Linked DNA regions of Homo sapiens: all the other regions are linked to region 3. The links come from fine-mapping of genetic effects on gene expression. A gene starts in region 3. Each other region holds a variant in brackets. All regions are shown on one strand. Distances are between the middles of the regions. Region 1 has its middle 29 kb from the start of GTF3C4. Region 2 has its middle 37 kb from the start of GTF3C4. Region 3 holds the start of GTF3C4 (general transcription factor IIIC subunit 4).

The links. PIP is the estimated chance that this variant, and not a neighbour inherited with it, causes the effect. A credible set is the group of variants that fine-mapping cannot tell apart.
Region 1: its variant is the best candidate, but not a certain one, in a credible set for the expression of GTF3C4 in whole blood (INTERVAL, PIP 0.87).
Region 2: its variant is the best candidate, but not a certain one, in a credible set for the expression of GTF3C4 in whole blood (TOPMed, PIP 0.75).

What each region holds. Positions count from the first base shown.
Region 1 is chr9:132,697,831-132,700,588 of GRCh38, forward strand. No RefSeq gene overlaps it. Among named protein-coding and RNA genes, the nearest start is that of GTF3C4, 29 kb to the left of the region's middle. The variant TAA/T (reference allele first, on the strand shown) is at 1,249.
Region 2 is chr9:132,706,306-132,709,063 of GRCh38, forward strand. No RefSeq gene overlaps it. Among named protein-coding and RNA genes, the nearest start is that of GTF3C4, 37 kb to the left of the region's middle. The variant CT/C (reference allele first, on the strand shown) is at 1,505.
Region 3 is chr9:132,668,994-132,671,738 of GRCh38, forward strand. It overlaps GTF3C4 (general transcription factor IIIC subunit 4), which reads left to right and starts at 1,471. Exons shown (of 5, transcript NM_012204.4): 1 at 1,471-1,962. The coding sequence starts at 1,606. DDX31 (DEAD-box helicase 31) reads right to left here and starts at 990. Exons shown (of 20, transcript NM_022779.9): 1 at 867-990. The coding sequence starts at 941. RefSeq lists enhancers at 847-1,714, 1,400-1,479 and silencers at 1,060-1,209, 1,630-1,759.

The sequences.
Region 1 (2,758 bases), 29 kb after region 3:
AAATAGAGCTGGGGGAGGGTCATAAAGACAGGATTCTCATGCTTGTATGCCTGATAACAAAAAGTATCATAAAATACTCAACAGAAACCACAACCTTGCACAAACTCCATTGCAACGTTATACAAAAAAATACTTATTCAAAGATATCTGCCCAGCAACTGCCTGTCCAACCTCAGACGTGCATTACGCTTATTATTGACCTTTGTAGCCAAGGATAATTATTTCAAAACAATTATGTAATCCTCATTTTTTCCTTAAAAATCTATGTCTTCCTTTACCTCCCTGAAAACACACTTAGTTTACTATGGTGCATGTATCCCCACTGCAATGCTCTATTCCCAAATATTTTTCTTTCAGAGAGCCTATCTCATATTTATGCTGACATATATGGTGTCAGAAGTGAGACCCAAAAAAAAGATCACTATCAGATCAGCGATTATGGGAACCAGTGTGCAGTACTCATGTGAGCCTTTTGTGCTCTCTGCTTCTGCAGCTCACCTTTTCTGCCCTGGTGAGTCTTTTCCCAGGCTGAGCCTCCCACTTTTTGGTAGAGGCTTTTAAAATATTATTTGGGATCTTGTTTAGATAAGGTCACCTTAATAAAGGACCATACATTCCCTCCTCAGATGATAAAAGACTTTTTGTCTTCTGGTAAGCCCTTTTTGGTATAAAGACAAGTGTCTCTCTGAACACTGAGCTTTGGGTACCCAACTCTATATTCTGCAGAATTTACATTCTGTCTGTGAGGTAGGTCTTTTCTGGTGAATATATTTTTAGTGTGGTCTGTGTACCTATTTTAATGTTTTGTTTGATCTGAATGCCTGGGTTAAAATTTTTATGAACACTCTTGTCTTGGTCTCTTTTGATTTGGTTTGACTCTCTTCCCTTGCTTGTTTCTGAAAATCTTCTGAGAGCCAAAATAAATTTCTAAATGGTGGGTATGGGATAGCTAATTAAAAACCACTAGGGAAGGCCGGGCATGATGGCTCACGCCTGTAATCCCAGCACTTTGGGAGGCCGAGGCATGCAGATCACGAGGTCAAGAGATCGAGACCATCCTGGCCAACATGGTAAAACCCCATCTCTACTAAAAATATAAAAATTAGCTGGGTGTGGTGGTGCGTGCCTGTAGTCCCAGTTACTCAGGAGGCTGAGGCAGGAGAATCACTTGAACCTGGGAAGCGGAGGTTGCAGTGAGCCAAGATCGTGCCACTGCATTCCAGCCTGGCAACAGAGCAAGACTTCGTC[TAA/T]AAAAAAAAAAAAAAACCCACTAGGGAAGTCACCACCATCTAAAACACTGGTGTAAATGCTTGACATTTCCTGACAGGATTTACAGGATTTTCTTTGCTCTTGAGAGATTGATAAGAAATAGAATGGCATTCTCAAACATTAAGGCATGCCAGCTTTTCTGGGACTCCAGCCAGCTACATATTATGGCCCATTCTTGTGCACATGTTTAAACTGATAGGCAAAATTATATCAAGGAAAATTCAGAGCTCAAATGGTCATGATTCAAAAAACCTGGAAGTATCGAAGTACCATGTAGAGTCTTCTAAATTCTTTTTTTCCCTGCCTCCGTTGAATCTGCTGACTGTGCTACTGATATTGATTTAAAACTCAGTTTATGGCATTCCAACCAAGATTTTTTTTAAATAAAAAAGGAAGTAATGGTCTTTTTTTTTTTTTTTTTTGAGATGGAGCTTCACTTTTGTTGCCCAGGCTAGAGTTTAATGGTGCGATCTTGGCTCACTGCAACCTCTGCCTCCCGGGTTCAAGTGATTCTCCTGCCTCAGCCTCCCAAGTAGCTGGGATTACAGGTGCCCGCCACCATGCCCAGCTAATTTTTTGTATTTTTAGTAGAGATGGGGCTTCACCATGTTGGCCAGGCTGGTTTTGAACTCCTGACCTCAGGTGATCTTCCCACTTCGGCCTCCCAAAGTGCTGGGATTACAGGTGTGAGCCACAGTGCCCAGCTGGAAGTAGTAGTCTTAAAGGGCTTTTAAATGAATGGCTTTACAAATTACATCAGTAATTTGTACTGGTGTACAAATTGTAACCTAGACACCTTTTAGAAATATACATTTAGATTTGACTGACTAGCAATTATGTGCAGTGATGGAACACTTAATTGAAAAATTAATAATCTGAAAATAAAAAGAACTAGGTAAATGTTTATAAAAGTTAGGCTCCTGGATCAAACGAGTCAAAATCTTGAGCTCTGAGCAATTATATGCAGTATCTCTGTCCAACATAAACATTTTGCTTTTTCTGCCATGCTGAAGCCAAAAAGAAACATCTGCTGGGTGGGGGAAAACTGCTAAAATTCTTCACCATCTGTGTTTACTAATAAAGCAAAGCAGACTGGCCAAAAAAAAAGATTTGTTACTAGTTCAAGGCTACTTGAAGATGTTTTCCTTATTCAATTCCATCAGTCCTAGCTAAAATGTAAACATTGAAAATTTACCCCTAACCTCATTTGAAACTGAAAAGTGGGGGTGAGGAAGGTGAAAGAGGTTTTTAAAAATTCAAACTGCCATGAAAACTGCTTTACCCCAAATTTTGGTCCACAGCTTTCATTAGATTATCTATTGGGAAAAATAAAGTTTAGTCATGTGAACAGATCCCAATTTTGTCAGAAATATGATTTAGCTCTAACTGTCTTTTATAAAGGAATAAATTTGTATTTCTAGCTCATGACTAATATTCTAAAATGAAAGCTCTAAGATGATTGTGTATGTGTACATGATGTGTATATGTG
Region 2 (2,758 bases), 37 kb after region 3:
TGCTGGCATTCAGGGTATTTTTTTGTTGATCAGTAATTACATTTGTTGATCATATATTTATAAATGGGTATGTTCCTTTGGATCTCGATTTCTTCCCCACCCAAACTCGTCTGCTCTTCATTACAATATAATCCAAAGACATTTGTCTTTCCGCTCCACAAAACATCATGCTGCTCTGTTATGTCGACGGCAGCATCCTAACTGGACTTGGGAAACAGGAAAGTGGCAACTGCTTGAATGTGGGGCATATGTGTGCCAGAAAGTCGATGAAAAATACTACAATGATTCTGGGTCCTGTAATCACAATGAAGTTTTTATGGATCCAGTGGTCCAAGGCATGCCATGGCATTGTCCTTAAGGCAAAAAACAAGTTCTTGCACCTTTTACTTCCTACCACTGAGAAAGAGGCAAAGAGCTTCTGGCAGCCTCTACCAGGGACCCAGCTCCGGCTCACTTACTGAATAACTCAAAAGGCTGGTAGCTTTGTGTGAGGTCCGTAGCAAGAGAGGACTCCAGGTCCAGGCTGGGATGCAAGCTGGCCTGTCACTTGGGCCATGTTACCCAGAAGACCCAGTGGAGCTAGACACATCTATTCTACTCGACATTGCACTATAGGTCCTGGTCATTCCAATAAGGCGAGAGAGAGAAAGGTATAAAGATTGGGGGAAAAGGGCCAGGCATCGTGGCTCATACCTGTAATCCCAGTGCTTTGTGAGACTGAGGCAGGAGCATCACTTGAGGCCAGGAGTTTGAGGCTGCAGTGAACCATGATCACACCACCTCCCTCCAGCCTGGGAGACTGAGCGAGACCCTGTCTCTTAGGAAAAAGAAAAAAAAAATTGGAAAAAAGATATCGTATTCTCAGTCAATATGATATGTAGCCTGGGCAACATAGGGAGATCCTATCTCCACAAAAAAAAAAAAAAAAAAAAAAAATTAGCCAGGCATAGTGGTCCATACCTGTAGTCCCAGCTACTTGAGAGGCTGAGGTGGAGGGTCACTTGAGTCCAGGAGCTCAGGCTGCAGTGAGCTACAGTGGCACCATTGCACTCCAGCCTGGGCGACAGAGCGAGACCCTGTCACAAACAAACAAAAAATATGATTGGGTATGAAAAAAGTATAAAAGAATCGACTGATAAGTTATTAGCATTAAGAGACATTAGCAAGGTTTCTGGATCCAAAACGAATACTCAAAAATAAATTGTGCAAATATTCATAGCAGTTTTAGTCACAATACTCAAAACCTAAAAACAACTCAAGTATCCATCAATAGGTGACTATAGAAACAAAATGTAGAATAGCTACACAACGGTGTGTGGCTCAGCTACAAAAAGGAACAAATCAATAATACACATGAGCCGCTTACTGATTGATTAACTTAGCTCCAGATTCACCCTTCAGTCCCCACCTGCTGTCATTGGCTGGACTCCATCCTTCTTGGCTGTGGGCACGATATTCAGCTTTGTCAAAAGAGGGTGCTCAGGCCAGGTGCGGTGGTTCTTAC[CT/C]GTAATCCCAGCACTTTGGGAGGCCAAGGCGGGCGGATCACGAGGTCAGGAGTTCAAGACCAGCCTGGCCAACATGGTGAATGAAACCCCGTCTCTACTAAAAATACAAAAATTACTTGGGTGTGGTGGTGGGTGCCTGTAATCTCAGCTATTCGGGAGGCTGAGGCCGGAGAATTTATTGAACCCGGGAGGCGGAGGTTGCAGTGAGCCGAGATCGCGTCACTGCACTCCAGCCTGGGGACAGAGTGAGACACCGTCTCAAAAAAAAAAAAAAAAAAGAAAGAAAGAAAGAAAGAAAAAGCGGGCGCTGGAGGGAGCCTGCAGAAGGCAGGGGCTTGTGGATCTGCTGCCTTTTCCTTCCTTCCTCCCTTCTTCTTCCTCTAGCATCCATGTACGTAGAGGACCGCAACGGTGCCCTGCCCCAGGCTTGGCTGCATGTCTCCACCCTGAAAGTAGCTGGCCTGTGGTTCCAGGATCCGCTCACACTGGCAGGGTGTGACCAACTCATCCTGGCTCTCCCAGAACCGGCCTGCTTTGAAAAGTGGAATGCCCATGTCTGGGAGCTCCCTCGGTCCCAGGCAAACCGGGATGCTTAGTTTCACCACAGACCAGACTCCTCCAACACAGCTTTTAAAGGAAGAGGAAAGCCCAGAACTCCGAGCTCCTCTCCCCAGGTGCTGAAGGGCCATGTTCCCACCAGGACCACAGCCCAGCCCTCCACAGCTAACGACAGAGGTGGTTGTGTGTCCGTCTTCAGGTTTTGTTCCCTTTTCCTCCCTTCCCTCTTTTCTCCTAAAACATGCGAAGGAAACTGGGGATAAGAGGGAGGCTTTCGACAATATTAGGAACATCTCTGACGTTCTTTCTCGAGAAAACGTAACATCTACCACCCTGGGTCCCCCGCTTAGGATCCTCACCGAGGACATCGATTTCAATACGGCGCTCCGAGAGCCCCTGGAACACCCCGGGGAAGTACAAGAGGTAGCGGCGAGTCAATCCAGGGACTCCAGCTGGGACCCCCGGCGAGTCCCTCGGCTCCATGCCCCTCCTTGCTTGCAGCTTCATCCTTGGAAACTGTTTCTCAAAGTGGTGCCTCGGCCCGTCTGCACGTGGAAGGCAAGAATCTGGGGGCCTCAAAATCTGCAGGCTGAAGGAGCTCCTCTGGTGCCGCTGACGCACACCGTAGCGCACCTGCGGCGTCTCGTGGCTGGCCCGTTCCCAGGGCACGCAGCTGCACTTCACCAGATGACGCC
Region 3 (2,745 bases):
ATTTTCTAGTTGACGGTTGAGTTTGTCTAAACACCTGGGATGGATACAAAGAAAATGCTCAGGTTAAGATAAAAGATTGTGGAGACCAAGGTTCTTTTCAAGTCTTTAGTGGCTGCCCTTAGAGACAACAGACAAGTGTTTCCTATTCAGATCTTTGAAAGGTGGTAGACTCTTAATCTCTTTAGGATTGGGAGGGCCTGGAAGAAAAAGATCTAGCTATGTTAATAGAGATTCTTTGCAGATGCAAATGTCCACCCCGCCCGCCCCCCCCAAAGAACAGCTTTGCAAAGCCATTTCAAAATGTGGCAAAGAAACATGTTTAGGGGTAATATTTTAACTTTCTTCTTTGTCACATAATGTTAGGCCAGAGCCAGTTTGGAAAGTAAGTCACGATATATAGGGTTAAATGAAAGCCATCTGATGAGAATTTATGGTTTGTAGGGCATGACTCTTCCCAGACAGGAATGTGGGCAAGATAAAAAAAAAAATCAGAGCTTAGTCCGCACTCAGTCGAGGAAACTGGCTTAGAGAAGTTAAGCTTTGGCCTGGGACTTGCGCCGGAACTTCAGGTCCTACCTTCCACGGGAAACAGCCTCTAATTCCTTCCTTTACTTTTCTAGGCGCAGGAGCCAGCTCCCCGCCCCTCCACACCGCTCCACTCCCCGCTTCCAGGCGCATCCCTGCGGGTGGTGTTCCGGTTAGAGACACGTGTTTCGGCGCAACTTGTCCCGAAGCTGCCCGGTGTCTTTCTCCCGCTTAACTCCGTGAATGACTCGAAACCCGACTCCAAGGCACGGCTGCAGCTCGCGGCGCGCCCACAGCCGGGCCGCGGGTGGGGACGGAGCTGAAGCCGGGTCAGAACTCACCCGACTCGCCTGGGCTGGGGGACGTCTGGAGAACGTCCTGGGGTTGTCGAAGAGCGAACCGTCGGCGGCTGCCATGGTCTGCGTGGGTGACGCGTGGTGCAGCAGCGAGCCCGGTGCGCAGACTGCTGGGCCCGGGACCCCACGTGGGACGCGCGAGGACCCTGCGCCACCGCCCCTTCCGGGTCCGGAACGGCTCCAGCTGTACGGACTCGTCCCGAGGGGAGCCGGGGACGGCGGCACCGGGCGGGTAGGGACAAGACTACCGCGCGTGCCCCCGCCTGGTGGCAGCCCCTCTCTGCGTCCCTCGCGGCCTGGCAAAATTACATTCGGCCGAGAGTTCACGCTGGGGAAGCTCTCTGAATGCCTCTGAGAAGCGAGATCCGGCGCCATCTCACCGACGAGCCTCCCCTTTACCGCCCCGTGCGTTTCCTCAGCACTTTAGGAACTAAAGCCTGTCTGGGTAGCTCCCTAACAGGCTCTGGAGCTCAATCCCTGGGCAGGGAAAAGGGGGTCCTCGGGGCTCCCCGCTCGCTGTCCTTTTTCTGGACAGGCAGTTCCTTGGCCACCTGGTAGGGCCGCGTTGCCTGGCAACGGCGGGGTCCTTCTTGGCTCGGCGGCGCTCGGGGCCTGAGGGGAGAAAACCGCCGCGGAGGGCGCTGGGGGTGGCGGCGGCGGTCCGGGAGGTGGTCGCGCGACTGCGTGGAGCGCCAGGGCGTCCGACCTCTGCACCTGAGAGAAGATGAACACGGCCGACCAGGCCCGGGTGGGGCCCGCGGACGACGGGCCTGCGCCGTCTGGGGAGGAGGAGGGAGAGGGGGGCGGCGAGGCGGGCGGGAAGGAGCCAGCAGCGGACGCGGCCCCGGGGCCCAGCGCTGCATTCCGCCTCATGGTGACTCGGCGGGAGCCGGCCGTGAAGCTGCAGTATGCGGTGAGCGGCCTGGAACCGCTGGCTTGGTCCGAGGACCACCGCGTGTCTGTGTCCACGGCCCGCAGCATCGCTGTGCTGGAGCTCATCTGCGACGTGCACAACCCGGGCCAGGACCTGGTTATCCACCGCACCTCGGTGCCCGCACCGCTCAACAGCTGTCTCCTCAAAGTAAGTCATCCCCCGCCATCCCTGGGGTCTTCCCCTGTCCCCCTCTCGCGGCCGCATCATCCGTCCCAGGGGAATCCGATCCCACACTCTGTCCGGGGATTTCCCTCTTCGCACCGAGCGCTGGGGATTTATTAAGCAGCCAGGGTTACCACAGCTTAAAAAAAAAAAAAGAAAAGCTCTGCAGCTGTCTGCACCCTGTTTCCCCAGGTCACCCGCCGCCGCAAACACAGGTACACACCCAGGGGGCTTCCCGGAGTTGAGTCCCAGGAACCCCTCCTTCGCCCCTCCGTCGGGCCCGCACATGGAGCGGGTTACTCGATGGTGCTTTCTGAGACTCCACCCCCTGTAGATCCAACCCGGGGCCTGCCTCTGTCGTTGCTGCTATTGTTTGGGGCCGACTTTCCGAGGTTCTTGGCTGGCTTTGTCTACTGTGTGTGTCCTCCTCTCGCGCCTCTTTAGCTTCAGAAAAGAAAAACTGGTCCCATCCATTGTCTTAATTGTTTCAGTGACTTTATTATGAATGGTCCTCGCCTCTCCTTGGGCAAACGGGTAAATACTGGATCTCGGGGTTTGTACTTTAGTTTTTCTTTACTAGCTAAACATCTTTGGGATGTTGAATGAAAATAAAGATTCGAAACAACTACCTATCTTAAACTTCAAGCGCAAGGTCAAGTAGTAAGCCATAGCGTTCCTTTTAGTTGCTTAGAGGTGTAAAAACTTTCCATATATCCTTGATAGAGGTGTACGCTTACATGTGAACTGTCAGTGTATATTCATACATTC